Linked DNA regions of Homo sapiens: regions 2 and 3 are each linked to region 1. Evidence: fine-mapped expression QTL. A gene starts in region 1. Each other region holds a variant in brackets. All regions are shown on one strand. Distances are from middle to middle.

What was found.
Region 2: its variant is fine-mapped to the expression of KCNN3 in sun-exposed skin (GTEx, PIP 0.91).
Region 3: its variant is fine-mapped to the expression of KCNN3 in lung (TOPMed, PIP 0.96).

Annotation. Positions count from the first base shown.
Region 1 is chr1:154,866,776-154,877,085 of GRCh38, reverse strand. It overlaps KCNN3 (potassium calcium-activated channel subfamily N member 3), which reads left to right and starts at 6,805. Exons shown (of 8, transcript NM_002249.6): 1 at 6,805-8,054. The coding sequence starts at 7,122. RefSeq lists enhancers at 6,936-7,025, 6,098-7,054, 8,462-8,981.
Region 2 is chr1:154,811,478-154,821,787 of GRCh38, reverse strand. All of the region lies in intron 2 of KCNN3 (potassium calcium-activated channel subfamily N member 3), which reads left to right. Among named protein-coding and RNA genes, the nearest start is that of KCNN3, 54 kb to the left of the region's middle. RefSeq lists enhancers at 7,556-8,213, 8,214-8,873. The variant G/A (reference allele first, on the strand shown) is at 5,228.
Region 3 is chr1:154,834,255-154,844,564 of GRCh38, reverse strand. All of the region lies in intron 1 of KCNN3 (potassium calcium-activated channel subfamily N member 3), which reads left to right. Among named protein-coding and RNA genes, the nearest start is that of KCNN3, 31 kb to the left of the region's middle. RefSeq lists enhancers at 3,738-4,032, 3,687-4,188. The variant G/A (reference allele first, on the strand shown) is at 4,761.

The DNA.
Region 1 (10,310 bases):
ACTCTCCCCTCCCACTGTGAACAAGAGCAGGCCAGTTAACCTTCTCTGAAATTTGACTCAGTTTCTTCATCTATAGAATGGGCATACTAACTTTACTCCCTGGCGTGTTGGAACCATGAATGCCCACAGTTGGCCCTCAGTAAATGCTCCAAGTGTAGGGAGTCAGGCCGTATGTCCCCTTTACCTTGACACTCAGATGATGCAAAAGAGCTCCAGTTTTTCTTTAGCAAAGCAGAGTATGGGGAGGAGCCTGTGTGAAGCTGAAGACTCCTTGGCACCCATAGGTGGCTGAGAGTTGTTGGTGCGTGGCCAGGGGACAGGTGACATGCTGTAGTCCTACCTTGCTCCTCAGATCATGGCTTGCAGGGGCAGGGGTTAGGTGGGCATTCATTATAAGAGGCTTCACCCAGGGTCTAGACATCCAGGGACTCTCAGGAAAGAAGTGTGGACAGAAGGCCTACACTTACCAGTTGGCATTCCTGGTGGCCAGCCGGGCAAGTAAGGGGCAAGTAATGTGTCCTGGGTCAAAGTGCCCAAACTCTCAGTCAGGCTAAACTCACTCACCCTCTTACCTGCTTATGTATTCAACACACAATTTGGGTGCAGCGTGAAGTGCAGTGTTTTGTGTGTGTGTGTGTTTTCCAATTTATACCATAAGCTCCTGTCACCAAGGAGCTTATGGTGTCAATTAAAATCAGGGAAATTAGCCAGGCGTGGTGGCGGGCGCCTGCAATCCCAGCTGCCCGGGAGGCTGAGGCATGAGAATCGCTTGAACCTGGGAGGCGGAGGTTGCAGTGAGCCAAGACTGAGATCGCGTCACTGCACTCCAGCCTGGGCAACAGATTCTCTCTCTCTCTCTCTGTATATATATATGATAAAATCAGGGGAGAGAAGACATATATCTATAGACAACACCAGTACAAAGCAAGAGGTGAACAGTGTCCCCAGAGAGATACAATAAAGTGCCAAGGGAATTCGGAAGAGGGAGATAATGTCAAATTGAGGGAGGAGAGGAGGGGAGGTCAGGGAAAGCTCTGGGCAGGGGTGGCACTTGTGCTGCTCCCTAAATTCTCACAGGACAGGACACAGAGCAAGAGGTGGGCTGGAAGGGCTTTCCAGGCAGAATGGATGGGAAAGAGCACAGACAGACCCAGGTTCAAATCCATGCCTAACTGGTGACCTTGAGCAAACTACTGAAACCTTTCTAAACTCTAGTTCATGGGAGTAAGAGTGGCAACGATGAGGCAATAGAACCTCCCCAGCCAGCCTTCCAGGGCTGCCAAGAGTTGCAAATGAAATATTTTACATAAAAGCAGTTGGAAAACTATAAAGTGCTCTGCAAACACAGGATTTGTTTTTATTATTGGAGCATTAATTAATCCAGTAATGAAGCTCCTAGATAAGAACACAGTAATGACTGAACCCACATGGGCTAATGAGCTGTTCAGCCTAAAGCTGTCCAACCATTCAGAGTCTGAGAAAGGGGGTGGTTAATCTTTATGACCCTATCCTTACCAGGTTAAGGGTATCCCTCCAACACCACTGGCTTTTCTAGAAAACCTGCCATTATCTGTCATTTGTGTCTAAACTCCCTCCATCCATCCATCCATCATCCATACATCCATACATCCACCCATCTATCCTCCCATTCATCCGTCCGTTCATCCATCCATCCATCCACCCACCTATCCACCCATCCACACGTCCATCTGTCCATCCATCCTACTATCCATCTGTCTAATAAATCTTTTTTTTTTTTTGTGATGGAGTCTTGCTCTGTTGCCTAGGCTGGAGTGCAGTGGTATGGTCTTGGCTCATTGCAACCTCCGCCTCCTGGGTTCAAGCAATTCTCCTGCCTCAGCCTCCTGAGTAGCTGGGATTACAGGCGCTCGCCACCACGCCCAGCTAATTTTTGTATGTTTTTTTTTAGTAGAGACGGGGTTTCACCATGTTGGCCAGGCTGGTCTTGAACTCTTGACCTTGTGATCGGCCTCCCAAAGTGCTGGGATTACAGGCGTGAGCCACCAGGTCCGACCAATAAATCTTTAATGAGTAATTCATAGCCAGGCACCGTGATCAGTGTTGGGGATACTGAAAAAATTTAGAGCCCTTTTATGCAGGTCACAGCCTGTGGGAAAGACAGCCATATAAACCATGAACCACTACTTTTCTTAAACCTATTTTCAGTTAGTTCTACCTTTTGGGGATAACAAGGTCTACAGACAATAGATTATGGAATTTTAAAGCTGAGTGATCTTAGAAATCATCTTTTTTATCTCACTATTTTACGGATGAGGAAATTGTGTTTATGATTTGTTGTGAAAAGTACTGTGACTTTCCCTTACTTGCCTTCAAATGACCTCATCCAGGTTTCAAGTTTAGTCAGTTCGATTAATCTTTACTAAGCATCTATTGTAAGCGGCTCTTCGGAAGAGCTGCAGTACAGCTGTGAAGAAGACATCATCCCTGCCCTCAAGGAGGTCATGGTCTATGGGCAAAGGACACATATGGAGATAACAGCTGTGTTGCTCCGTAGAGGCCCTGTTAGCACAGGGCACTGAAAATACAGAAGGAGCTCCTGATTTGGGTTTGGGGAGTTCAGGGGAAGCTTCTCAGAAAGAAGACCTTTGAGCCATGTCTTGAAAGGCAAAGAGAAATGTGTTAGATGGAAATCTGGGGGAAGGGCATGCCAGGCAGAGGGCATGGAGATGTGAAATAGCATGACTTACGGGAGAGCTACAATAGGTCGGTGATGCTGGGGCTTAAGGAGGAAGGTGGTGAGGAATGAGCCTGGAAAGGAGGGCAGAAACCGAGTGCCAGTACACTTGATGTGGAGCCAGTATGGCCAAAGGCCACCCCTACTTTCCTTGTCTGCTCTTCCTGTCTCTCTGAGGTAAGAAGCTCCTCCACACCCCCGTTTGCAGACTAAAGAGGCCTAATTTGTCAGCCTGTCATCTTAGGGCAGCATAAGGAGTTGCTCCCCATTCCTTAAGGTGTGGCTTAAGTCCCACCACCTCCAGGAAGCCACCCTTGACAACCCTCTGCCTTCAATGAACTCTACTGTCTCGCCCACACTTTGGGATCTGCATTGCTGTTTTTTGTCACCCCATGTAAGTATAACTTGTCTCTACAGTGAGACTTTAAGTTCCTGAGGGTTGGGTGTGTGAGTCACATGGTAATGTTTAATAAACACCAGTAAGAATGAATCCTTTAAATTTGGGTTTCAGGACATATGGCGAGGGTTTGTCAAAAGGTTGGACAGGCCTGGGTTTGATTCCAGCTTTATGGCTAGTTACTAATTAGTAACTCTGGGCAAGTTTTAAAATCTTTTTAATGCCTCAGTTTTTTCATCTATAAAATGGGTGATGGCCTCAACTCACAGGCTGCTGTGAAGACATGGTTGTGGCTGGGGGCCAAGGGAAGCATTGGGGGCTTTTCAACAGTGGGGCTTTGGACAGGCAGCAACAGCGGGAAGACGCCTGAGTGCGGTGCATCTGGAGGGCAACGTGGAAAACCTGACATGATCAGGCCCTGTGGTTGAGAGCTCCCAGCTGATTCACTAACCTGTCGGTGCTTGACAGTTACAAAGTACTTGGCCGGTGCTCTCATTGGACTAAGGAAATTGAAGGCCTGAGAACATAAGCAACTGGTCACAAAGTGGGCGAGTGGCAAAGCTTGTGCTGGTGAGAAGGAAGGCAGAGGGTGGAGCGCACAGCCTGTATGTAATGATATAGGAGGCAGTAATATGCTGATAAATGTTGAACAGCCAGGAAAGATTTAGCAAGCGGCTTCCAGGAAAACATAAGCTCTAATTTACAGTGTTAGCCGATTTCTGTGGTGTAAATACTCTGATCATGGCTGATTTCAAGCTGCTAATGTGACATCACTGTGGAGTTAGGAAGAGATGTGTATGGATGATCAGAAGGTCATCTTGCCTGTGGTCACACAGCCATCCCTGCAGCAGAGAACGGTTCCAGCCTGGGCAGTCTGACACTTGAGCCCAAGCTCTAAACATGACATTGTCCTCCTCCTCCTGTTCATGACAGGATAGCTGTAACAAGGGGCATGAGCTGGCTCCGTGGCATCAGCTGTCAAGTTCCAGCCCATTTCCAGATAACCACTGATCTTTGGTGCTGGCATAGTTAGGGCTCTACCCAAGCTATCTTTCATCCTTATCCATGATGGCAGGACGTGCTCTGATAGGCCCCATTTGGATCCCATTGGCACAGCCAGAAGAACTGGAGGCAAGAGGCTGGCCAGAAAGGTTAGCTGAGGCAGAAGGCAGCTCATGGGGGTAGAGTGAGCATAGGAATACCCAGGCCTGGAGCCTGTTCTCCAAAATTGATTTTTCACAGCCCAGAAAACTGTATCCAACACTAAAAAACCAACACGAACAGCACATTTTTGCTACTAACAACATATTCATGATAATTTATTAGAGGATCATTAAACCTAAGTATGCGATCTGGAGCCTTGAACCAAGCAGGTGGCTCTGTCTGCGGATGGAGGAGAGGGAGGGAAATCAAGAATACAGAAGGGAAGGGCAGGGAAGGCAGAGGATGCTGAAGGGGTTGGGGGTGGGTTCTAGAGGGCTTGGTCATGGGAAAACACATGAGACCCCAGGCTTGCATCTGAGGCCTGGTACTGTGACTTCTAGTGTGTGTGTGTGTGTGTGTGTGTGTGTGTGTGTGTGTGTGTGTGTGTGTGTTGGCAGGGGTAGGGGAAATGATTATGTCATTGATATCAAGATTATTATTTTATATATATATATATTTAGAGACAGGGTAACACTCTGTCGCCCAGGTTGAAGTGCAGTGGCGCTATCACAGCTCACTGCAGCCTCAAACTCTTGGGCTCAAGCAGTCCTCCTCCCTCAGCCTCCTGGGTAGCTGGACTACAGGCACTCGCCACCATGTCCAGCTAATTTAAAAAATTTTGTAGAGTCTGGGTCTTGCTATGTTGTCCAGGCTGGTCTCGAACTCCTGACTTCAATCAACCCTCCTGCCTTGGGCTCCCAAAGTGCTGGGATTATAGGCATGAGCCACCATGCCTGGCCAGAATCAAGATTATTGTGCAAGAGTAATTGTCACGTATCTGGGGTCGTGGCTTGTATTACAAGTAATATTTAGCTCTCAATCATCAGGGTTAATGGGGGATTGGAGAGGTGAGAACTGATATACAGAGGGGACTCTGGGCTCATTTTGGGGGGGCTCTGTCCCTCCCTGATCTGGACACTTGCTGCTTACCAGTCAGGAATGCTGTTTTAGGAGCTTCCTATGTGTATATGTGTGCATGTGTGCATGCATGGGCTAGTGTGTGCACACAACCATGTACACATGTGCACATATGTCCACCTGCTTACATGTTTTCTGGATGTGTGTCTGTGTATGTGTGCATGGATCTCCTACCCTTTCCTCTTCCCATCGAGGGAGGGAGCTGGACAGAGGCCAAAGGGTGATGGGGAATCAAGAGCCAGAGAGGAAGAGGCCTGCCTTTTAAAACCCCAGGTGTTCTGGGGAATTCCCTCATGGTGACTTCCTTTCTGATTCCTAAGGCTGCTGTGGTTAGAAATGAAAATGAATTCAGCTCTGGTCCCATCCTTTGGAACCCCCTCTGCACACAGTGGGGGCTTAATAAATACTTGATGATGATGGTTCTGAACCTGGGAAGCCAGCAGCTGTTCCTAGTTCTGACTCTCAGAGCCCCATGGGGCAAATCAGGCAGGGAATGACCATGGGGGAATCTTCAGTCTTCCTGCCAGATCCCCCTGTGACTACACACCCAGCTGTTAGGGAAGGGGCTGGAGCCATGGTCCACTTCACACACCCTGCTTTGGAGAGGCCAGTTCTTCCTCAGCAGCTTCTCTTTTGTTTTCCCCAACTAACATTTGAACAATATTTATTGAACAACCACTTTGTACTGAATATCATAGTGGAAATGCATCCTGGGAGAAAGTATCTGATCTGTGGGGTCAGACTGACTAAGTTCAAATCCCAGCATCTTTAATTACAAGCGGGATGACATCTGACAAGTTACATATCTATGTTTGAGCGTTTGAGTGTTTTTTCCACTTTCCTTTCTCTCCTTCTTCTCCTTCTCCTTCTTCTTCTTCTTCTTCCAATTTTCATCTGTAAAAGGAGAGTGATGACATCATTTTTGTGGGGTTGATGTGAGGGTTGGAAATAACAGAGAGGACCCTGAACACGAGGCGTAGGCACTCAGTCAATGGTAGGTGAGTTTATCCACCGGGTGTTAGAAGGTGTGGATCCCCCCTGCTTCTGTGACCTTGACGTTGTTACTCAACACCTCTAAGCATCAGGCTTTGTAAATGAGACCATACTGCCCACCTCCTTGGGTGTTTGGAGACTGTATCCGGATAATATATGTGAAACAACCTATCGTAAACCCTGGTGGTTAATAAATGTTTGCCTTCCCCTCCGTCTGCCCCCTCATCAGGGTGCACACCTCCCCTCCTTCGGAGGCCCTCTGTCCCTCCTCCCCATCGCCCAGCGTGAGCGAACATCCCTTATCGCCGTGGGCTTAAGGGTTGTGGCCATACCTGTCAGAGGAAAGAGGACAGCGGCTCAGCTCCGGGGTGGGGGAGCAAAAACTACAGTTCCCAGTCCTCGCTGCGCCGCCACTGGGGCCGGAGCCCAGGACGCCAGGCCCCTCCTCTGGGGAGGAGCCTATGCGGGGGGCGGAGCTAGGAGGAGGTTGGAGAGTTAAGCCAAGCCAATGAGACCAGCTGCTAATAAGTGGGCTTGGCTTACAATGTAACAGTGGCAGGAGGAGGCGAGCGAAGCTATTGAGCCAGCGAGGAGTGAAGCTGAGCCTGGCCTCACACGCTCCTAGAGGACCACCTCCTGAGAGAGTTCTTTCACCCCCTCTTCTTTCTCCAAGCTCCCCTCCTGCTCTCCCTCCCTGCCCAATACAATGCATTCTTGAGTGGCAGCGTCTGGACTCCAGGCAGCCCCAGAGAACCGAAGCAAGCCAAAGAGAGGACTGGAGCCAAGATACTGGTGGGGGAGATTGGATGCCTGGCTTTCTTTGAGGACATCTTTGGAGCGAGGGTGGCTTTGGGGTGGGGGCTTGTGCTGCAGGGAATACAGCCAGGCCCCAAGATGGACACTTCTGGGCACTTCCATGACTCGGGGGTGGGGGACTTGGATGAAGACCCCAAGTGCCCCTGTCCATCCTCTGGGGATGAGCAGCAGCAGCAGCAGCAGCAGCAACAGCAGCAGCAGCCACCACCGCCAGCGCCACCAGCAGCCCCCCAGCAGCCCCTGGGACCCTCGCTGCAGCCTCAGCCTCCGCAGCTTCAGCAGCAGCAGCAGCAGCAGCAGCAGCAGCAGCAGCAGCAGCCACCGCATCCCCTGTCTCAGCTCGCCCAACTCCAGAGCCAGCCCGTCCACCCTGGCCTGCTGCACTCCTCTCCCACCGCTTTCAGGGCCCCCCCTTCGTCCAACTCCACCGCCATCCTCCACCCTTCCTCCAGGCAAGGCAGCCAGCTCAATCTCAATGACCACTTGCTTGGCCACTCTCCAAGTTCCACAGCTACAAGTGGGCCTGGCGGAGGCAGCCGGCACCGACAGGCCAGCCCCCTGGTGCACCGGCGGGACAGCAACCCCTTCACGGAGATCGCCATGAGCTCCTGCAAGTATAGCGGTGGGGTCATGAAGCCCCTCAGCCGCCTCAGCGCCTCCCGGAGGAACCTCATCGAGGCCGAGACTGAGGGCCAACCCCTCCAGCTTTTCAGCCCTAGCAACCCCCCGGAGATCGTCATCTCCTCCCGGGAGGACAACCATGCCCACCAGACCCTGCTCCATCACCCTAATGCCACCCACAACCACCAGCATGCCGGCACCACCGCCAGCAGCACCACCTTCCCCAAAGCCAACAAGCGGAAAAACCAAAACATTGGCTATAAGCTGGGACACAGGAGGGCCCTGTTTGAAAAGAGAAAGCGACTGAGTGACTATGCTCTGATTTTTGGGATGTTTGGAATTGTTGTTATGGTGATAGAGACCGAGCTCTCTTGGGGTTTGTACTCAAAGGTAGGGGCTGTGGTTTCTCTTTATACCTTGAACAAAAGGAATATGTAGGTAGCAAGAGAGGGATTGAGAGAGGGGGATTGTGAGAGAGAGAGATTGAGAGAGAGAGAGAGAGAGAGAGAGAGAGAGAGAGATTGAGAGATTGGGAGGGAGACTGGGAGAGAGAGGTGGTGGTGGTGGTGAGAGGCGCTTGCTCAGTTATATTCAACACTCTAACTTCCCGTGGTTTTCCTTCTTGATCCCGGGAGAATTCATTCCTAGCTTCCTCTGGGGGGTAGGGGACATCCCCACACACTGTGTCTAATTTGCAGACTCTCTGTTAGGGAGGATTCAATAATCCCTTCTGAGAAATCGCTTTTCCTCCTGGCTCACTCGTACTAAAGCATAACCCAGCAGCTTAACGCACCAATTAATTACACTCCGCCTTCATGTGTTTGCCAGTTCCTGCGACTTCCCCTTCTTTCCTCCCCTCCCTGCTCCACTCCATTTTCCTGAGGATAAAAAAGAAATAAATGTCTGGGTGGGGGGTGGGGATTCCGTACCATTGCCCAAGTCCCTTCTCTCCCTGTCTTCTCCATCTCTTCCCAAGTTTCTGTTTCCCTCCTCTTCTCAGAGAGTCTCGGGCAAAATAGAAAACCATCCATGACCTGGGTCTCCTGAGGGCATGGGGTAAAAATATAGGTGGAGGAAATCAGTGGTCCTTTCCCTCAGGAGAGAGGACTCAGAATAAACCTGCTGCTGCTTCGTAAACATCTCCTGATAAAAATGGCTACAGGTGTTACCTGGGCAGAGCAGCTGGGCGCCGCCTTGGAATCAGCTGGGGGAGCACCTCTCCTTGGGACGGGATGACAGGGCTTCCCAGGCGGTCCCCACAAGCCCGCGCCCCAGCTCAGCCCCAGTTCTCCCCTCCCACCTCAACTCCTCCTTGGGATAAATAAAGATGAGTGTGTGTGTGAGTGCGCGCCCGGATGGAGAACAGCAGGCACTGGCTTTAGCGGGGAGCTGGCCCCACTGCTCCAGCCTCTCAGTCCAGCCCCAAGACGGAGGAGGGGGTTTCCCTCCCAGAGGGAGTGGAGATGGAGGAAGGTGGGTTTCTGCCGATGCTCTGCTTGCCGGGGAGCTCTCCTGCTGTGGGCTGGAAGGCTTGGAGACCTGGGAATCGGTGGACAAGTGGCTCCACGATACCCCCACCCCCAATTTGTTGGTGTGTGTGTGTGTATGTGCGTAATGTTTGTACGTATGCATGCGCCTGCTTGTTGCTTGGGTTTTTCTATTTATTTGTCATTTGGGGCAGGGGGTGGCTTGGTGGGGGGGTGGCTGGGCGGGCTGGCCATCGGGTAGCTGGGAGGGGTTCAGCTGTTGGAGGTTTCAAATAGAGCTTGTTTCAGGCAGGGCACAGCTGCTGCGAGACTGTCACATTCCTTATTGAAATCCAGCCGCAAAAACCTAGGAGGTGCTGATCGGATTTCCCCCATTCCCAGCATCTCACTTTAATCGGTGATGGGCAGACTTTCCCGCCCTGGAAACGGGTGGGGCAGACCTGTCAGACGACCTGAATAGCCAGGACCAAGACTTCCAGGCAGAGGGTCCTCCAGCAACCCGGCTGCTCTCTCAGTGGGCTGCCCCAGCGGAGGGCAGCACCTGGAAGCCGCCTTAGTCAAAATAGCTCAAGGATGAGCGTCTCAGCGAGCAGAAGCGAGTGGGGTTTCCCTTGGAAGCGCAGCTCACTTAGTCATTCCCTGTAATGAGCCTCTGCGTCTGCGGGTCCTTCTGCTCGCTGCCTTCTCAGAACCGCCTCTCCTGCTGGGCGCTCCAGGATATGGGGCTGGCAGCCTCGCTAGGACTGGCAGCTGCCCTGGTCACAGCCCTGGCTCTCTCCAGTCCTCCCTTGGAGACCAGGGGCCCTCACTGGGGAAAACTGATGAAGGCCCAAATGCAAGGGGGGTGTGGGGAAGGGGCAATCCCAGCACCTTCTCTTTCAGTGACACCCGTAGTCAGAGTTCTTAAGGAAACGGCTATTCCCAGAGACAGTGGCTGTGCACAGATCCCAGTGTGGGATCTATGCACATTTGTCTTAACGCGACGGGAGAGTCACCACTCTGCAGGATCAGGCCCTCTTCCCTGCCTGGGGCAGGTGCCACCCCTGAGGGGGAGCTCAGGGAAAGGGGCTTTCCCAGAGATGCGGAAGGCAGATTTTAGGTGAATGAAAGGGGAGGCCACCTGAGGTGCTTGGCTCCCCGCATTTCTGAATCACAGACC
Region 2 (10,310 bases), 55 kb after region 1:
CGGACCGGGAGAGCCCCTGATGCATTGCTCTGCCTTTTGTGTCTCTTGTCCTTTCTGAACTTGGGCCACTCAGTTCATCCCTTCAGTGAGGCAGACCTGCCTTGTGTACCCCCACATATGCTGCACCAAACTCCACCAAGGAGTCTGCTTTTTGTGAATGGTGTGGTCTTCACCCTTGTGGGTCTAGGCTGGGGGTGTCATTTTCTAGACAGAGTAAGAGTCTGCTGTGGCCGAGAAGGCCTCTGTTTCTTGCTGCCCAGGAGTGACTTGGTACCCAGAGAAACATTGGCTGGGCCTCCAGGGTGCACTTCCAGTTTGGCTGACATAGGGAGGATGGTTCAACCCGGGCCAGGAGGGTCAGACAGGAGAGAACAGATCTGAAGCATCTTCTGGTGACAATGAGCTTCCCCCAGCCCCCGGCCCTTCAGGCTGACCTGCACTGCTGTGGACCTGAGAAGTTCTAAACTATCCAGATGTTTTTCCTCATGTGCATGTGAATCTGGAAACCATCCCGGTCCTTTGGCTGGAGGAGCACAGATAGATTCACATCTGGGCAGCAGGCGAGAGATTGACGAAGACCAGAGCTCAGAGTCAGAAAAACTGGGGTCAAGTCTCGGCCATGACCTTTTTTCTTGGTGTGTCTTTGGCCAGCCCTGTGACCTTCCTGGGTCTCGATCTTCTCATCTAGAACATGGGGCCTTTATTCCAGCTCTGCTGAGCTGTTGTGAGGATGGGATGAGGAGCGCATGGGAGAGTGCTTTGTGAAGCGCTATTTAACAACACCGTTCAAATCCAGTCCCATTTGTTACTCGGCATTTTCAGGGTGGAGCAGCAGTGCGGACGCAGGTGGGAGTGCCTCCTCCTCTTAGAGAGCCTTGGCTTTTTGTCTGAAGGTCAGGGGCCACTGTGGCTGGCTGGGACATGGAAGCCTTGGCTCCAGGCCACCTTGGCAGGGCTGCATTCTGTCAATGACTAGAGGATACTGACCTGGATGCTGGGACTCTTCAGCCTCTAAAGGGTTGCAGATGCTTGGACAGGGGCTGTGCCTGTGCCAGATGCCACCAGGCAGCTTCCTTCATGGAGTCTGAATTGGACAGAGTGGTGGACTTTAACTCAGACCATTGTCCAGTCAGCCCCAGAAAGGAGCCAGGAGTACAGGCAGGGAGGACTAGGGCCACGGAATCGAGACAGGACAGAAGTTGACAGTCTGGGCTCCGGGCCTGGTTCCACCCCACCCAAAGCCAGCCGCGGGATCCAGGCAGTCCCTCAGTGTTCATGTTCTCATCTGTAGGGAGACTGTATTACTATGTGTCACCCTGACCTGTGTGGGGAGGTGTCACACACAACAAAGAAAAAAGGCAGAACCATAAAACTCAGTTATGACCCAGGCTTGAGGAAGGGGAAGAAGAGGAGCTGTTCTCAGCCTCAACCCCACACTTTGGTGGTGCTAGGCCTGATTACTTCCTCTTTCTGCTCCAGGCATTGGGGTGGGTAGAGCCAGGTGTCCCTCCCTCTGATGCTCCTGAGGTCCTTGTTCCCAGTCCAGGGCCTGCAGCCCTAGCTCTCAGCCTGTTCTGGTCCAGCTGCAGCTTGACTCAGTTCCGGCCTGGTGGCAGGGTCATGTTGCTGACAGCCCAGAACCTGGCTGGGTACCCATTGTCCCATGTCCAGCTCATGGCCAATCTCTGTTTCAGCCCTAATCATGGGCAGTAGATGATGCTATTGGGGGTCATTCATTTTGGCCTGACACAATTTGGAGAAACAAAGTGAAATCAGTTGTGTTGAATCCTGACTCTGGGGCTCAGTTTCCCCATCTGAAGTATGGGAACCACATCACCCACTTTGCTGAACTCTTGCAGGGGTTGGAAACAGTGTAGAGTACAGAGTGGGCTTTCACAGAATGGAAACTTTGGTCCCTTTCCTGTGACCTTTGTCCCACTGCTTCTAGCTGGGCCTTGCACTTACCAGCTGGGTCCACCAGGTGGTCACTATCACGACTGCCTGGTACTGGCAGGTGGCTGGGCTTCCTCCTGCTCTGGCCCAGCCCTGCCTGTACCCTGAGCTCCCACCACCCAGCCCCTTATCCTCCCTGCAGCCTCCGTCACTTGAGGAAAGTCACCAAAACCGGCTTCCTCTGTGCCTCTTACCTTTCCAGTAAAGTTCTTTCTGTGCCCAGCTAGACCTTCTCTTGCCAGAGGGAAATGGGAACAGTTTGGGCCCAGAGAGTCAGTGGGAGGGAGGTTCCTACGGAGCGCCCTTGTATATACCGCACTGGGCCATATTGTAGTTTTCTGTTGGGTGTCTTTCTTCCCTACCTCAGGGACAGTTATCTTTGCATTAATCTTTGCATGTCCAGAGACTTATAGTGTCTGACAGTATACTCTTCTCGGCAGAGTATAGCACGTTTGTAGCACGTTCTTTGAATGGAAAGCATGCTGAGTTCAAGGTAACTCTTTTCCAAAGCTGGTCGTACCTTGACTTAGCTTTTTGGTCTCGGGCCTCAGTTTCCTCATCTATTACTTAGCCCCCCAATCTTGTAATTCTCTGATTTAGATCTGGCTGCTCAGCCAGCTGCGGAACCTGCTTCCTGCGAGTGGAGGAAGGAGTTATCCCAAGTGTGACTGATGAAGTTATGCAGAGGGGAGTGCTTAGCAAGCACCCTTCCACAGGCAAAGGCCAGCTGCTGCTCACCTGTTGCGAAGCAGGCAGGGCAGGGGGTGGCTGCCGCATCTCCCCTTTGGGTGATGTCAGGACCTTTGCTAGGAATCTGCTCACAGCTTTCCTCATCCACAGTGGTTCCTGATCACCTAGCTAAATTTTAGCAGGGACCAGATGATCATGTCCCCGTCTTCCCCAGCCTTGCCCCAGAAGCTCACACCCAGGACCCAGGCCCTGCCCAGCACACATGTGAGGCTGGGGGAGTACCTTTTAGAACAGTATTCTTACTTGTTCATTTAGATGGCTTGAGTTTTTCAGGAAGAAGAATTCTAAAACACTGTTGGGTAACTCTCACCCAAGCTGGGTAATTTATAAGGAACATAAATGTATTTCTCACAGTTCTGGAGATCGGGAAGTCCAAGATTAGGGTGCCAGCAGCTTCAGTTGTCTGGTGAGGGCTGCTCTCTGCTTCCAAGACGGCGCTACGTTGCTGCATCCTCAGGCAGGGAAGGCAGGAGGCTGAGGGACTGAACACTGCATGGGGCCTCTTTGATACAGGCCTCAATCCCATTCACAAGGGAGGAGCCCTCATGGCCTCAACATCTCTGAAAGGCCCCATCTCTTGGCACTACCACATTGGCAACATCTGAATTTTGGAGGGGACACGTTTAAACTGTAGTGTCCACCTAGTGCAGGAACCCCAGGGCCTCTGTGTGTGCTACTGTGACGGAGCTGCTGGCCCCCCTGGGAGAGGCTGCCCTACCAATGTCTTTAGAAAGCCCGCCCTTCTGCCGAGAAGAGGCAGCCTCCCTGGAACTTGCCCCCTGGCCTGGTTCTGCTTCTGGAGCAGGGAAAAGAAGGGGTTGGTTTCCCGCATGGTAGCCTCCATTGTTGGAAGATGGCACCCCACCCCATCTCTCCTCAGTCTCCCTCTCTGTTGGCGTTTTGGAGCACGGACCTTTCAAAGACTCAGGCACCTCTTTTCCTCAGGCCAGTGTGTCCGGGAGAGAAATGAAAACACAAGAAGCAATGCATTTTGTTTATTTACCAAAACTCTGACTGAAAACCATGCTCTCCCTTGGAGAGTCCATTTACTTCTGTGGTTTAGCTCTCACCAACAGCTCTCAGACCGTGCTAATCCCCTCCCCAGGCTGCAGGCTCACGTTTTACATGCCACCGGCAGCCCCTGGCTCCACACACAAAACACTGAACTCCTCTTGCTCCCCAGTATCCTCTCCTCCTTTGCCCTTGATGACCCACCAAGTGCAGTCATTGGTTCAGCATCTATTTAATAATGTTCTTCTAGGTGCAGAGCCCAGGACAGGAGCCCAGTTCTCTAGATGAGAAACTCAGAATTCACCATTGCTTCTCCCAGGGGTCATCAGCCTTGAGTGAATCTATGGCTCTAATGAATGGCCCTGGTGCCATCCTGGAAGGCAGGCTAGCAGGCAGAATCATAAAACTCAGTTATGACCCAGGCTTGAGGAACGTTCTCTACTGAGAATGTAGACTTCAGAGCAGCCCAGCTTGGCGCAAATCATGCTGTTTGTCACATTTAGTGTGTAGGTGGCCTTTAGCAAGTTACTTAATCCTTCTTAGTCTATTTCCTTTCTGTAAAATAGGACTAATAACCATACTGTGGAGGCCACAGCAACTCCATCTTGGATGCTGATCCTCCATATTGACTTCCGATTAACCCAGTTTCGGGAAAGCCTCTAAGATTTCTCCTTTATCTACTGTTTACTGTAAGTCCTGCCCTTAGGCAAATTGCTTCTGAAGCACATATACCCCTTTCCTCTGGTATTTAATCCCTGGGACTAGGGGGTCGTGGTGCAGGATCCACCATCTTGTCTTACTGCTGCCAGAGACTGTGGCTTTTGTTCATAAGTCCCTATTAAATGCTTCTTTCTGAGAAACTGGATATGTCAGCCCCTTTCTTCAGCCTTTCAGCTTCCTCAGCCTTTGGGGGTAGGTTTGAATATGCCTACCCACCCGGAACCAGTACCTACCAGAAAGGGTTATTGTACAGATTAAATTAGATAATATATGCAGAACTCCTTAGCTTAAGTAAGAATGTGTTTGTCTGGCTGACAGAGTGGAAAGGATACCCCAGACAGAGGTCTCAGAGTAAACAAAGGCTCTGAGATGGGGAACTGCAGAGCACACTGGGAATGTCTCAAGGACAGGGTCCTGGGTAGAGGGGCAAGTTCACTATGGAGGGTGGGAAGGACCCGTAGGGACTTGTTTGCCTTGCTGAAGGGTTTTGGAATGTCCTGTAGGCAGCAGCAGAAACTATGAGAAGGTTTCAAGCTGGGGACAGAGATGATCAGATTTACATTTTAGACAGCACTCTTCATCTGCAGCATGCAAATATAGGAAAGGCCAATTTCAGAGGCAGGAGGACAGTGGGAAGCACGTCATCATGGGCCAGGTGAGGGGTGTTGATGCCCAGAGCTGGGGCAGGAGTGAGGAAGGGAGGATGGGAGGGATCCAGTACCCCTGGGAGGAAGTGCCTGGCTCAGAGCCCCAGGCATGGAATAAGGGGTGGGGTGCAGACACATTCACATCC[G/A]GAGGCGTGGAGCAGAGCCTGGCATCCTTAATAAAGTTGCAGGGATGGGAGGTGCCGTCCCTACATCCAGGCCAATGCCGGGCACGTAGCAGGTAGTCAGTGAATGTTTATTGAATTAAACTGAAGAGACTACTGTGACCCAGGATGGGATACAGAGCAGTGGCAGAGTTCATATAATCCAGTCCCAGAATGGGAGCTTCAGAGATCATTAATTTCAAATTGTGGTTCTTGGCCATATTCAAAGTAAAAGGCATCAATCAGATCAATGGGGTGGAGATCCACTCTTGCCTGGGGATATCAATCCCCTCAAGATCTAGCGTTGGTCTCAGATGTTTCCAGTCTTTTTCAAACTCAACAGAAACGTAACGGTAGTAACAAACTATGGGCCTTCAACCTCATGAATTTGAAATACAAGGGACCAAAAAAAGGGGAGGCTTTTAATTTATTAGGTATATAAAAGTGGATATTTTCATTAAATACCAATAGAGTTCTGAGCAGACAGGGAAATTACTTGAAATTACAGGACATAAATTATAGGAAGCCTCACTTCCTGTGGCATAATTGCTCTGTGGATGGGAGTGTCCTCCTGGGTGCGTGTAATGTGCTGTCACAGGGACATGGGTGTCTGTAATGCAGGAGGTGTTGCTGGCCCAGGTGCTTTGGGGTCCCACCGCTAAATGAGTTAGTGGTGTCTTCCCCTGAAAGAACAGACAGGACAACTCACGTTGCGTCTTGCTCTGTGCCCTCACCCTCCCTTCTCCCTGTAAAAGAAAGCAGGCTCAAGTCACATCCTGAATGTAACCTGTAAGGTGTCCTGGCACTGAGAGACAAGGTATAATAGCAGAGCACGTACTGACCTCTCTAAATTTTCCAACCCTAGTACAGTCTATAAAAATGGTGAGTCCATTCATTCGTTTACTTATTCAACAAACATTTATTGTAGGACTACTTTGTGCTAGGCATTGAGAATCCAGAAATAAAGCAGACCTGATTCCTGCCTTTGGAAATTGGTTTGTCCTAGACCTTTATCCACTGTGACCCAGGGTCATAAGTGCCATAATATGAGGGTCTGTGAAACACCAAGTGGCCACGGAGGAGGGAGTGATGCATTTCTCCCAGAGAGGCTGGGCAGGTTTCACGCGGAGATGATGCTGTGCCCTGCATTCGCCAGGAGCAGAGACCTTGTATGCTCAGGACAAAGCTGGCCCAGAGCGTTTCAGGAGAGGAAAAAAAAAGAGAAGGAAGCTGTGCCTGTCCTCCGAAGGGAGGTGGAGGCTGCCCAAACCCCCCAGGTAGGGGCTAGAGTCCCCATCCTTCTTCAGACACCTGGTAGAGGTTTCCTAAGGGTGTCTCTGGCTGGTTGGTTGATGAATTAGAAATACCTTCATTGAACCTCCGAGATCTTGAGACCCCCAGACAGACTTCTCAGCCTGGCTAGGTTTGAGCATGTCAGCTCCTTAACTCAGGTGTGATGAGCAGATGGAAGGAGGGAGCTCGGGCCACTCGTACTGAAGGGGAGGAGACCTTGACAAGGAAATTCCAGATGGGGGCCTCCTCTGCCAGGTTTACATCCCTCTCCTGTCCCACTTTCATGAGTGTGCCCCTGGATGATCACAGCACACAAGGGAAATTGAAAATGGGGAATGTGTTCCAGAGAACAGCGACTGGTGATGGGGATTCACTGGAGCGCTGCTCTTCTTTGGGCCTCGGCCTCCTGCCTGGCCCAGCTGTGCACAGTGGGGCTAGAAAGAAAGGGAGAAATAGAGAGAGGAGCTACACCACCAACTGGGCCCGAGAAGTCAGAACACCATGGAATAAATCCTCGTCAGACTACACTTTGAAGACAGAAAGCTCAGAGCTGATACATTAGCAAGCGCCTCAGAGACGATGGTGTGGCCACATCTTGTCTAGCGCTTTGTATTTTTTAGAGGGTTTTCACATCTATGAGGCCTTGGGCCTGGCCGCCTTCACCTTTTTGCCTTTTAGGTTTCAGCATAGATATTTCCTCCTCCAGGAACTCTCTCTGGCCATCGTCCCCCTTCCCTGACCCCAGGGTGCCCCTTCTAGGAGTGGACCTAGCACCAGCTCTTATAGCAGCGGCTCTTACTTGTCCCTGCGTGTCTTATGTTGGTTGTGAATACTATTTCTTGCCTGCAACTCCCTTCTCTGACTGTGGGCTCCATGGCAGTGGGGACTGTATTGGTTTCACTGTTGGACCCCCAAAGGCATGAGAGTGCCTAGCACATAGTAGGTGCTATTCAATGAGTGTAGGCTGAATAAATGAATGAATGAATGACAAAACTGGGGTAGGCATGGCAGATTTACTCCCTCCTCATTCTAAGGAGAAAGTAGAGCCTCTAACAGGCTGAGAGCCTGACCTGAAGCCCACAGACCTGGCATCTGGCCCGTGCTTTCTGCATCCTAAGGGGCTGCGGGTCCCAGCAGGTTGCCCAGTGAGCTGGCCATGCCCACCATGGCCCTCCCTGCCACTCTCTGGGAGGCCCACCTCGATCCCAGCACCTTTTCACTTGGATCGGCCGCTGGCCATGGATTGCCATGGTTACTACACCAGCCCTGGCAGTCTCTGTGTGACATTTTGGTTTTATTTGCTAAACATTTAAACACTTGGGCTTAACCCTTTCTGCCTCAGAGGGGGCTTTCCTGCCCCTGCTCCCTGTCCCTCAGGTGTGAGGGCCCCCGGCTGCTCTCCCTGGCCCTGGCTGGCGTCTCCGATGGGGTGGGTGTGCTCGTGGTGGCAGCAAGGCTTGTTTCTCGGCTGCCTGTATTGACTTTCTGTTTTGTCTCTGGGGAATGTCATCCTGGATCATGCTCTCACTGGGTGGTGCTGTGTCCATTAACAGGTGTGAAAAGCCCTGCTCCGGGCATGTTAAGGCTTGACCTCCCCGTCAGCTGGGGTTCTGTTGACTTCCAGGCAAACGCCTCTTGCCAAGTCCTCCAGGAGCTTCCTTAGCTCCAGGAGTTCAGGACGGGGTGGGGAGGGGTCATCTGCCCTTGAACCCTGGCAGGAGGACAGAGGGGAGACTGGTTTCGGGAAGAGTCCGTGTTTGTGAATGGGAAGGCGGTGCGTCGCCTGGCCTCCCACGCCTCCTCCCCTGCGGGCTTAAGATGAAGCCTCCCAGGAAGAGGAGGCGGCCCGGGAGGCTGAATCCACCCAGCTATGTGTTACCTTGGAAACCACACACTTGTCCTCGCCCTAGGCCATGTGAAGTGAGGGGGCCGTGGACACGCTTCTCAGGAAGCTTCCAGTGTAACTCAGGATACAAAAAATCACAGTCCCAGCATGGGCAGCTGAGAGAATGAAAATGTTCAAAAAAAAAAAAAAAAAAAAAAAGCAGCCTAACAACTGCCCTGCCCAAGGGGCTCCCACCCCAGCAACCCTCTGCCCATTCTACATGGGACGAGAGGCCAGGGCCAGTTTGTCTGGGATGCTGATCACTTGTGAGCTTGGACAAGCTACTTGTTCTAGCTCAATCTCAGTTGTGTTGTCTGTAAAGTGGGCAGATTAGGCCAGAGGATCTCTGAGAACTCTGATTGTAGCCAGAATTCCATGTCTGAGGGGCACTGCCTGACAAGGAGAGGAAAATGTCGGGAGAGTGGCTGTGAGCGGTTTTTGGTAACAATGACTGACCTGGTTTGTGTTCAGGAGGCCCTTTGTGGGACTGTCCGAACAACTTCTGTCCCTTCTCTTAATAGCCTTGCCTCTGCCCAGTCACAGAGCTGGCTGTCCCCTAAACACAGCCTCAAACTTGACATAGAAAACAATAATAAAGACAGCTCTTTGGCTCCAACATCTTAAAGTTTAAAGGTGACTCCTCTTGAGTCTCTTACACACAGGAGCTGGTCAGACAGCTTAAAGTTTTCAGGATAATAGAGTAAGTGGCCAAGTCCCCTGCCTTAACAATCCATTCCAAACTCCTTCCATGAACGCGCACTCCCACTTCTCCAAAGTCATGGGGAACAAGTGCTCAGCTTAATAGAATATTCTGTTTCTCCATCATTCTCAGCAAACTATCGCAAGGACAAAAAACCAAACACCGCATGTTCTCACTCACAGGTGGGATTGAACAATGAGAACACATGGACACAGGAAGGGGAACATCACACACCGGGGCCTGTTGTGGGGTGGGGGGATGGGGGAGGGATAGCGTTAGGAGATATACCTAATGTAAATGACGAGTTAATGGGTGCAGCACACCAACATGGCACATGTATACATATGTAACAAACCTGCACGTTGTGCACATGTACCCTAAAACTTAAAGTATAAAAAAAAAGAAAAAAAAAGAATATTCTGTTTCTCTGAGAGTGCCAAGGTGTGTCATCCCTGACTTTTTCAAAGTTAATCCGTTCTATTTGGTTTTGTTGTTACCATTTTTCAATGATGATCATTTCCCCCGTGGCAGCGGTTCTCAATCAGGGGTGTGCCTCAGATCCCCCGTGTCATATCTGGGTCCTGCATAGGCAGGTGAACCCCACTGCCTGGGAATGTGTGTTTTGACAGCACCGCAGGGGGGCCAGTGCACACTCTTATTAAGAAACATGGCACTCAATTAAGCTCAGGGAGGCCAGCGTCTTCCCAATCATCCCTGCAGCCACCCCTGCTGTGCCTAACGAAGAGCACTGTGCATAGTAGGACTCAGTGACTCCTGGGGTAAGGATCATTGACTCTCTGAGAATTTGTAAAGTTGGAAGGCACTGTTGAATCTTTAGTGTTTGGAGGCTTCTATACAAGTGTTGTTGCATTGTGCTATCAAGAAAATTCTGATAATTCTAGTTTCCTGTTGAGTACAAATCTAGTAAAATGACATTTTCCTGTTTTTAAGAGAAAAAATGGCAAAATCACCACTGCTCAAATTCTCCAAAACCCAACAATTGGACGAGGAAAAGAGATGAACTGCCCCGATTTACCTTTGAATTAAAGAATTCGATGCAATTCAATTGAGCAGTTTTGTTTCCTCCAAAGGCATCTCCCATACAAACCTGTCCTGTTAGCATGATGGTGGGAGAGACACTGAGCCTGCGGTCCGTAGACCTGGGTCCAAGTTGAGACTTGTTCATTTAA
Region 3 (10,310 bases), 33 kb after region 1:
CCAGGAACCTGGAGTGACTTCCCAATAATAACGTCTGCCCCACTGGGGACTACTCCATGGTCTGAGTGCCTGAGAGGCCTGACAGGATGTGTGACCGGCGCGATGCCCGGCACCCAGGCCTTTGACACCAAGTGTCAACGAGGTGTTTGGTCATGTTTCCAACTCTAAGTCACTTCATTTCTGTCTGACTCTCTCCCTGGCTTAAGATTTAGAGACTGTTTTCATGTCTAATGAAAGAAGGACAGAAAATCTCTCTCTAGAACCTTGTCTCTTACTCTCCATTAAAGGTAGCAAAATTGCTTTATAAAGTCTAAAAGCCTGACAAGAACGCGTACTAATAATGCATGAATTATGCAAATCTGTGTAGTCACTTGATTTGCATAATGGAGGGGCTGGAGGAGGGTTGGGGAGGGGAAGGAGTGAGGGTGAGGGCGTCTGCCCAGATCTGTGTGTAACGGGGGACATTCATTTGCTCCCTTGGGTGGAGTCCCCTTCTGCAAGCCCCTGCTGGTCCCGAGGGTGTGTTCTTTGGCCTTCCCCTGCTGGCCTGGTGTCTGCCCTTTGTGGCCTGGCTGTGCAGCCCCCCCTCCTACTTTCGGGGCAGTCACCGAGGCAGGGGCACCGCACCCTGTGCTGGACTCTTGTGTAGAACTGGCTTCATTAAATCTCACAGCCGCCCCTCCATGTCCAGACAGCCTTCCCTGAAAGTCCCCTGGGTCATTATTTCTCCAAACGTCTGTCTTGCTGAGGCATTGGACTTCGTTAAGTGCCGTCTGGAATTGTAACTATTGCCAAGTGCCTTTTTCTTGGGTTCTGTGGGAAGCAAGGGTGAGAAGGAGTCTCCGGGAGAGAACTCCCCACCTACCCCGCCTGGTTTCTCTCTCAGCGTTTCTCACTGTTGCTTTAAAAGGTTTCAGCCTCTGCTGTAAGGGGCCTCTTGCTTTTCTCTCCCAGCCTCCCTGCATACTCGCTAACCTTGGGACTTCAGATTTGATGAGGGGCCGGGCGCAGTGGCTCACACTTGTAATCCCTGCACTTTGGGAGGCCGAGGTGGGAGACTTGCTTGAGGCCAGGACAACATAGCCAGACCCCATCTCTATTAAAAAAAATATTTGATGAGGGCTGAGGCTGGGACTGAGGATACTTGAGGCTTGAGCTCAGTGGGTGCTGCCTGGAAGCCCGGGGATGTGGGCTCTCAAGCTGAAGGGACGCTGGGAACCAGCTGTGGAGAGCCAGGCAGCTGGCTTTTTTGTCTAGAACCTGGATGGGGCAGCTTCTTGTTCTGGGGAGGGGAACTGTTCTGCAGGGTGGATGGATGCAGGGAGCCAGCCCTGGTTGGGAGGTGGGAGGGGCAGGGACCATATCTAGCTCCTGGAGAGGCCAAGCAGACCGTCAAGGCTACAAACAGGCTGGGGTTCAGCTTATTTCAACATACTTCTTCAGCATCTATGTCTATGGGCTGGGCTTGTGCTAGGCCCTAGGTGTCAGAGATATGAAGGCACTCATAGCTGTCATTTATTGAGCTCCTATTATAAGTGTCAGGTCCTTCGCTAAGCCACTTATTTACACGTGTCATCTCATGTAATGTGTATGACAACTTTATGAGGTCACTACTCTTACTGCCCCATTTTATAGATGAGTAAGTTGAGGCTTGGTCACATGGCGAGGAAGTGGCAAAGTGGGGCTCTAAGTGAGGTCTTCGGACTCCAAAGCCCCTTCTGCAGACCGTGATGCTTTGCTGCCTCTGTTGAGTCAAACCGGACTCTTCCCTTGAGGCCCTGATGGTAACAGCAGTGTAAACAGATGGTGAGCACAGTGTAGTGTAATATATGCAAGGGGAGAGGTTGGAACCAGGCACAGAAGTAGCACTGAGCATTTAATTATGTCAGGGAGGGCCGGGGAAAGCTCACAGAGGAGGTGGTGGCGGGGGGGGGGTCCCTGAATGAGCCACAGGAGGGAAACCAGATTCTGTCTGGCACTTAGGGAAGCAGCCAGTGGAGGCTGCAGGTCAGTGGGCTGGGGTGAGGGGTAGGGGCTTTAAATCCCAGTTGCTTATAGCCCCCTTCTGCCCCACTTTTGGGGTGCGACCAGGTGATGTGAAGCTCAGGAGGTCATGGCTGGGACACTCAGGAAGGTCAAGTGTGGGGTGCTGCCCCAGGGCCCCTCTCCTCGGCCTGTATGTTCAATAGGTGCACTGGCCTCCCTGTCTTGGCCAGACAGCTCTGAGAGCCAGGGCTCTGTGGGTGCCTGAACTGTGTGTGGACCCTGCCTGGGATGAGGCCACAGCTGCTCCCACACCCGCACCTGCTCACACCCAAGAAGGGGGCCGCCATGATCACTGTGGAGGCCAGGGTGGGAGAACCCTCTGGACCATAGGGTCCCACCCCATTGCAGGGCAAAGAGGGGATCTGAGGCCCAGTGACTGGAAGTGATTTGCTGCAAGTCACACAGGCAGCAAGAAGTGGGTCAATCCCCCAAGGTTCTGGTTTGGAGCACTCCCGGGGGTCTCCCCTCACCCCTTACCCTGGGCTCGCCCTCTCCAGGCTGTGTGCCATCCTCACCACCTCTGTCGTGCCCTCGCTCACCCACGTGGCTACACTCTCGCGTGCGTTTCCTTCACACCTGGCCATCCTCTTAGGCCAGGCCAAGGCTTTGCTCTGGAGAGAACTTAAATGGCATTGTCAGATGAGGAAGGAGCAGAACCTGCCGATCCCATGACCTCCCAATAGGCCATCTGCACACACTCAGCCCGCTCTCCCCAGCCCTGCACAGCCCCTTCGGCTCGCACATCTCATCCTTACTCCTGCTAGCAAGCAAAGATGTCTGCAGGTGCTCTCATTCGGGGATGGGGATGTAGTAGGGAGACAATACCTGGTAGATAGAGCTGAACAACTTTCTGCAGAAAGTTTGGAGTGAGGGGGGCTCTGTGATGGAATAACAGGCATGAACCAGAAGCCTAATTCTATTGCTTAGAAGCTGTGTGGCTTTAGGCAAGCGACTTAACCTCTCTGAGTTTCAATCTCCTTATTAATAAAACAGGTACGAACAGTGCCTTGCTCAGTGGTCCCCTAACTTGGCTTCATTTTGGAATCCCCTGGGGATCTTTAAAAAAATGCTGATGCCTGGCTCCCAGCTTCTGACCTGATGTCACTGCCCTGAGGTGCAACCTGGGTGTGGGGATTTTAAAAAGCTCCCTGGGTGATACTAATGTGCCGCAAAGTTTGGGAACCACTGTCCCAGGGTTTGTTGGGGATTAAAGGAAGAATGCAGACACGTGGAGAGCGCTTACTAAATGGAGGTGATTATTTCAGTGTTCATCTCCCTGCCTCTCACTCCATTTAATGTGGAGTCTGTGGGACTGAGGTTTTTATTTTTATACCACAGTGGGTTTGCCAGAGTGCTGACCTAAGGGGGCTGTCAGCGGCCCATCTTTACCCGGAAAAGACCCTCCCTTGCGCCCTCACCATCTCTGCAGCCCTAGGGCAGGCCTCAGTCTTTCTGACAGGCCCCAGGGTCCTGATTAGGTCGGGGCCTGACCCCGCAGGGGCAGGCCTGCCCCTGGTCTCCACCTGGTGGCTTTGGGAATGGAAATGCTGGTTCCCACAAAGGCTTCTGGGAGACAGAAGCCTAAGATGGCAGGGTGCGGTGCACACACTCAGTCTGGATTCGGTGGCCTGACCTGGGGGATCCGGGGAGGGCGTTGGTGGGGGCAGAGGCGTGGGAGGGGCTGCTTCTTTGGAGCTCTCCACTCTGCTCCCTGGTACTGTCTGAGGCCCTGCAAACCTGAGCAGAGGCTGTGAGGGAAGACACATTTCTCCAGATTCCTCAGCTGTCCTGACAGGAAGTTGTGCATCACTGGGCTGACAGGAAGGAAATGGCTCTGCTGTTTGGAAAGAAATAGAGAATTCTGACTGGGGCTGAGGGAAAAGGTGTCTGCTTGGAGAAGCCGTTTTGTCCCGATATGAGGACTCTTTGTCTCTGCAGGCAGTTGCTCCCTGTTTATTTTCCTTTGAATGACAAGGATTGGCTTCAGTTAATGAGGAGCGGTGAGAGGAAAGTGAGAAGCGGCTTGTGAGATTTTGGGACACGGAAGCCTTCGCAGGAAACCTGGCCCTCTGCTTGTAATAAGCATCTTTCTTTCCCAGCTCCCTGCTTCGGGGACTGTGAGGTGACAAAGGATTTTGTGATCTCACACGCCGCTTTTTCTCCATCCACCAACCATACCTTTGCAAATGCTTTGATTTCTATTTCTTTTTACCACCCCAAAAACACAGTGGATCTTTTAATAGCACAAGGCCTTTTGAATCTCTAACCAATCAGTCTCCAAATCCTATCCAAAGTGCACTTAGAATAGACACTTTTAATAAAATATATTGCTTTTAAGCCAGTGTAAACCTGTGAAATTTGTACATTTCTTTTAGAGCATCTCTACAAATTTTACATTATTGAAATCACCACCCAGTGACCTTTTAGGAAATACTAGATAAATTGCAAGAGACAAATAGACAAACCAAATGGAGTAAGTACAATTTCCAGTGCCTTTCCTGCTAGGTTCCCAGTCTGAGTCTTAGAAATCCCTGACTCCCTGTGCCCCTCCCCCCAGCTCTGTGACCTAGCCCCTGCTCTGCAGGCCTCTCTGCCCACCCTGCCCCTGGCAAGGAGCTAGCAGCTGGGGTGTCATCTGAGAGCCATTTGCAGCTCTGAGAAGCAGCTCTGGTATGTGGCTCCTGGCACCTTGTCCCGTCTGTGTTTGTCTCTGC[G/A]CTCCATCATTCAAAACACTTCCACCAGTGGCCAGTGGCCAGGGCCCCCAGAAGGGCTCTTGGGGGTGGCTGAGGACTGCTTTAGAAAGGCTCAGATGCTCTGTGGCCGAGTCTGCCCCAGGCGAGGTCCTCAGCCTTGTCGAGTGAGAGCTGAGCGGGGGTCTGAGTCCAGCAACCCTCACTCACTGTGGAGCACTCTCTGTGCCTGGGCCAAACCTTCGTCAGCCAGGTGTGGATTATCCACTTTGTGGATTGCCTGTAGTGTCTTTTCCAAACCCAGGTCACGTTCGTCCCTGCTGCTGTCTCACTGCATGGGGACCTTTCCTCCCTATCAGCTGGTGGTGCTTAGGGGATGTAAATCAGGTGTCGTATCTTGTTTGTATTTTGTACAGGGAAAACAGAATTTGGAAGACAGATGGTCTCTAAAATCACATTACCAGAGCCTCCAAAGGGTCTCCTGGAGGCTCAGTGCTCCTTTGGGCTATGGGATCTGTTCCCCTTCTGGTGTAGGTACGCAGAGCCTTGGAGCAGTGATGGGGGTGGAGGGAGCACAACTGCGCCCTGCTTCCTGAGGTCTGCAGATCGCAGGTCACTCGATGGTGGTGGGCACGTGGTTATGCACTCATTTCATGGATAAGTGAACTCAGTCACCATCTCAGCTGCTTTGCCATCGCTACACAGCGACCTGTGTCAGCACCACAACTGGGGGTGTTACTTGGGTCCCCTGTATCTCAGTTGCTGTTTTTCCCATGGAGTGACCCGACTGCCCTCCAACATGGGGAGGGAGGGAGAGCAGAAGGCAGATCAGCGGTTAGAGATGTCCTGAGTGGCACTGGCCCTTCTGTAGGTAAAGTAGCTTCGGGAGAAACAAGGTACTGTCAAAGCTGCCCAGGCTTCATTCACTCCTTAATTTGATAATTAATTCCACAAACATTAATGGAGTTTTTCTCACATTCCAGGCACTGTGCAAGGTGCTGGGGGTGGGGGAGAAACAGAAAGATGACAAAGACTTGGTTCCCACACTCAAAGAGCTCACAGCCTGGTAAGCAGATGCTCAACGCACTTAGAATTGTCTCCCGAAGAGGCCTGAAGGGACAGGGTGGAGGAAGCGCAGAGGCGGAGGCAGCTCTGGAGGGTAGGGTGGTGGGAGTGGCGAGAACGGAGCCGGTCCTGAAGGTTGACTGGGAACGGGAAAGGCTAAGGCAGGGAGGTTGTTCCCGGCCCAGCAAGCACATGGAAAGGTTGAGGGAAACGAAAGCTTAGTGCATTTTGAAGGAGTGTGAGCAACTCGGTATGGCTAGAATTTATGGTGTGAGTATGAGATATGGGGCTGTAGAGGCAGGCAGGGGTCAGATCATGCCTTGCTTAGGGGGTCTGCCTTCATCCCAGAGGCTGTGGGGAGCCGCAGAAGGGATTTAAGGAGTGGGATGGCACGATTTGTGTCTTAAATTACTTGCTATGGAATCTACATGGTATAGCAGAAGGAGCCCGGGAGTAGGGGAAGGAGCTAGGCTCTAGCTCTAAATTCTAGATCTGGATCTAGCAGCTGGGTGACTTTGGCCAAGTCGAGGCCTCAGGGTCCTGACCTGTAAGATGCAAAGACTCTAAGGTCTGTCTTAGCCCTGACGTTCTCCACACCCGTGGCCGCCTTCCTGTTTGGCCCCCACACTCTCTGTTCTGTACTTGTCCATCCACCTCTGGCCGCCTGACCCCTGTCAGCTGGCTGTCCCACCGTGGTCAGCAGCTGGTGGCAGCTGGAGGGAGAGGGGTGAGTCCTCCAGGAAGCATGTGCACTCCTGCCCTCGTAATTCAGGCCTGCCTGGCTTCTCCTCTTCCAGCCCTGCGAGAGCGCCTTCCTCCCCGCTGACCTCAGCACACCTGGCTCCCCACGGCACACAGCCCTGGCTGGGCCCAGCTGTGTCTCTTCAGTGAGACAGTTCACCCCCTTGGGCCAAAATCCCCACCCACCTGGCCCCCACGTGACAAGAGGCAGCTGCTTCGGGGTTGCCACCTGGTAGCCCGTGACATCTGTGAGATGTCTGTGCATTTGGCTGGTGTGAGCTTTTTCCTTTGCTCTGACCCAAGCTTTGATAGCTCAGTGTGTCATCACCGGCAGTGGATGCCTGGGAGCCCCAGACTGGCTCTTCCTGCCCAGGGACCCCCAGACCCACTTCTGCAGGACGCCTTGAAACAGCTGTGGGTGGAAAGCCAGGTTTTCCCCCATAAGCATCACTCGTTCTGCTGCCTTCCTAGCTTCTGTGCTCTCGGGCCCAGAGCTCCTCCAGGGTGAGGAACCAGGAGGAGGAGTTGGCTGGGTTGGCTGTTTTCCTAGGTCTTTGATCACAGCTGTTACATGTAGATAGGCTGGGCGCGGTGGCTCATGCCTGTAATCCCAGCACATTGGGAGGCCGAGGCGGGTGGATTACGAGCTCAGGAGATCGAGACCATCCTGGCCAACATGGTCAAACTCTGTTTCTACTAAAATGCAAAAAAAAGAAAAACACAAAAAATGAAAAACAAACAAACAAACAAAAAACTAGCCGGGCATGGTGGTGGCGTGCGCCTGTAATCCCAGCTATTCAGGAGGCTGAGGCAGGGGAATTGCTTGAATCTGGGAGGCAGAGATTGCAGTGAGCTGAGATTGTGCCACTGCACTCCAGCCCAGCAACAGAGCAAGACTCTGTCTCAAAAAAAAAAAAAGGCTTAAACAATGGGTTCTAAGCAAATAAGTATCTGTTTAGTCAGTGGAACGAGGAAACAAAAGTTGATGGAGTTCTCCCCACAATTGGAAGTGTTGTTCCCCACCTAGATGATGGGGCCTGCAGGGAAGTGATTTTGCACGATTCTCCTCTTCTTGGGAACAGGCCATAGGGTAGCATCCCTTCATTCATTCATCAAGTATTTATTGAGTGCCTACTGTGTGCCAAGTCCTCTGTGAGGTGATGGAGCAGAGAGACAGAAAGGACCCCGACTGTGCCATGAAGCAGCCCTGAGCCTGGAGGGGCCACTCAGAGGGAGCCCAGGGGCGGCGGCTCTCGGGCTCCAGCCGAGTTTCCTTCAGACCTAGCCCCTTTAGCTGACAATCTTAAAGCCTGGTCCCGGAAAACAGGAATAGTGCGAGAGGGATGAAATGTGGGTGAGGAGAGTGAGACAAGGGTGGAGGTAAGAAAGAGGGATGGAAGAAAAGACGCAGCAAACTTTCCCGTGAGAGAAACGCTCCAGACAGCACCCCAGTTCCCAGCTGAGACTCCCAGCCACAGTCAGCAAGAACCCACAGGAGGGGAGGCCCACGTCCCTGCTCAGCTCTGCCCTGGCAAGTGGGGTCGGAGATGGGGCATTCCCTGCTTGGGGTCTCAGTCTCTCCATCTGTAAAACGAGGCTTTGGACTAGGGGAGCTCAGAGATCTGTTTAGAACTAATATTCTGTAACCGGTGCAGGGCAAAATAGACGGGGGGCAGGAGCCCAAATTAAGGCCAGTCGAGTATCAGGTGGGGTGTTCCTCTGGCTCCTCCTATTACAACAGCAAGAGGGACCCAGGGGTACTGTGGGAGTCCTACCATCTCCTCACTTGTACGAGGTACCTTCTGGCTGCTCTTCCGGCTGCTCAACACTCAAAGAAGGAAGGTGCTGGGTGTCCTTGTTTGCATATTTTTCTGGCACGGACACATTCTTCTTGGAGTTTCTTGACATTAGGGCCACTTGAAATGCTCAAGGTAAGGGCTGCTCTGCCTGGCAGACATGCGTCAGGTGCCTTTGGCTCCTCCCTGGCAAGTCTGCCTCCAGACGCCCTCAGATCCTGTCCCCATGCCTGGCCATGGGGCTATCTGACCACTGATGCCAGAGGGTCACACTCATCAGTCTATACAGAAGACTTGGAAATGTTTTGGCAACCCTGTGTTAGAAGAGTGGGGTTTCCTAACTGTATGGCTTTGGGTAATTGCTTAAATCCTCCCAGCCTTAGTTTTTCCATCTGTGGGTTAGGAGTGGTCCTCTCTACCTCCCAGCATCAAATAGGAAACTGTGCAAGAAAATGCTTTGTAAACAGGAAAGCCCTAAACTGACATCCAGGACACAGTGACTCAGTAGCAAATATATTCTGATATTCAGCCTTTTCCATGGTTACAGCCTCCTCTGTGCCAAGAAATTCAAGTCACCAAGGGTTAAAGCAAGCAAGGCACATGGCCGTGATTGTCCATAATTGATGAAATAAACCTTAAAGGAGTGACATATAATTAATTGCAATTAATCCAGGCACTGTGACACCACCTTGCTAAAAATACTGTCTACTAACAATTGCTTTGATCCAGCAGAATGATGTCTGCCCATGAGCCTGGCAAAGTGTCTGCTAATGGAGTGCACATAGTGGGTGTGGAAGCTGGCAGGTGTGGGGGCAGAGGGCGGGAAGGGGGCCCCAATTCTCTCAGACCCTTTGGCAGCAAATACTACATATATAGGGTGATCATATGATTCATTGTCTAAACTGGGACACTTTTGAGATTATTATATTAATGATTACCATTCATAGTAATAATTATGCCAGATAACAGGCATACACTGGACTCTCCTGGGTAAACCCGAATGTATCGCCACCCTCTGCATAGGCTGTTTTAAGCCCGTGGGAACCCTCGACTGGGAGAGTATTTTCACGTTCATTATCTGCTCTTCCTCACAACAACCCTGGAAGGAAGAAAGGATTTTTTAGTCTCATTGAATAGATGTTAAAGATGGTGATGGTGTCAAACGGTCCAGCTCTAGTCTTTGGCCTGGCTTCCTCGGTGGCTGACCCCATGCAGGTAGAGGACAGCTGGTCAGGACCGGGAGTTCTGGGGATGTGGAAACAAGTGCAGCTCAGGGGGAAAGAAGTAGCAAATCTGGCTTCAGTGGAGCAGGAACAAGCGACCTCCTCCGTGAAGAGCTCAGGGTGTAGGTCTCAGCCGGGACTGTGCTGCGGTCCTTACCAATCCTGGGCTTGGAATCAGAAGCTGTGTGTTTCAAGTCTGGCTCCCACAGTTCAGCTGTGTGATCTTGGCAAATTGTATAATCATTCCGTGCCTCAGTTTCTCATTTGTCAAGTGGGGACAGTTCCTTCCTGTGAGGATTAAGTGAGAGTTTATATGAAGATGGATGGGTAGACTCAGAGCCTGTCATATAACAGGTACTCAGTAAGTCCTTGTAGAGTTTGAATCTGTGGAGAGTTCCTAGAGGCAACACCTGTAGGGGAACCATGGAGATCCTTCTGCCTTGAAATGGCTCTAACTTGAATCAATTAGTGTGGAATGAGCTCCCGCCTTGAGATGGGGCTGCCTCATGTTCTTGGAGAAAGAAATGGAGGAAATAACCACATGGAGGAATTGGGAGGTTCCCTGACCCCCCCTAGACCATGGATAGTCTACTTGGGAGACTCTACTGCATGCCCCGTGATAGGCAGGACCAGCACCCAAGGAGTCTTTGCATCTTGCAGTTTCCTTGAAGCCCTGTACAGGCTGGTGGCCCACGTTGGTGTGTGGCTTCCAGCCTTCCTCCAGGCTCTCAGATGAACATGCTTGGACA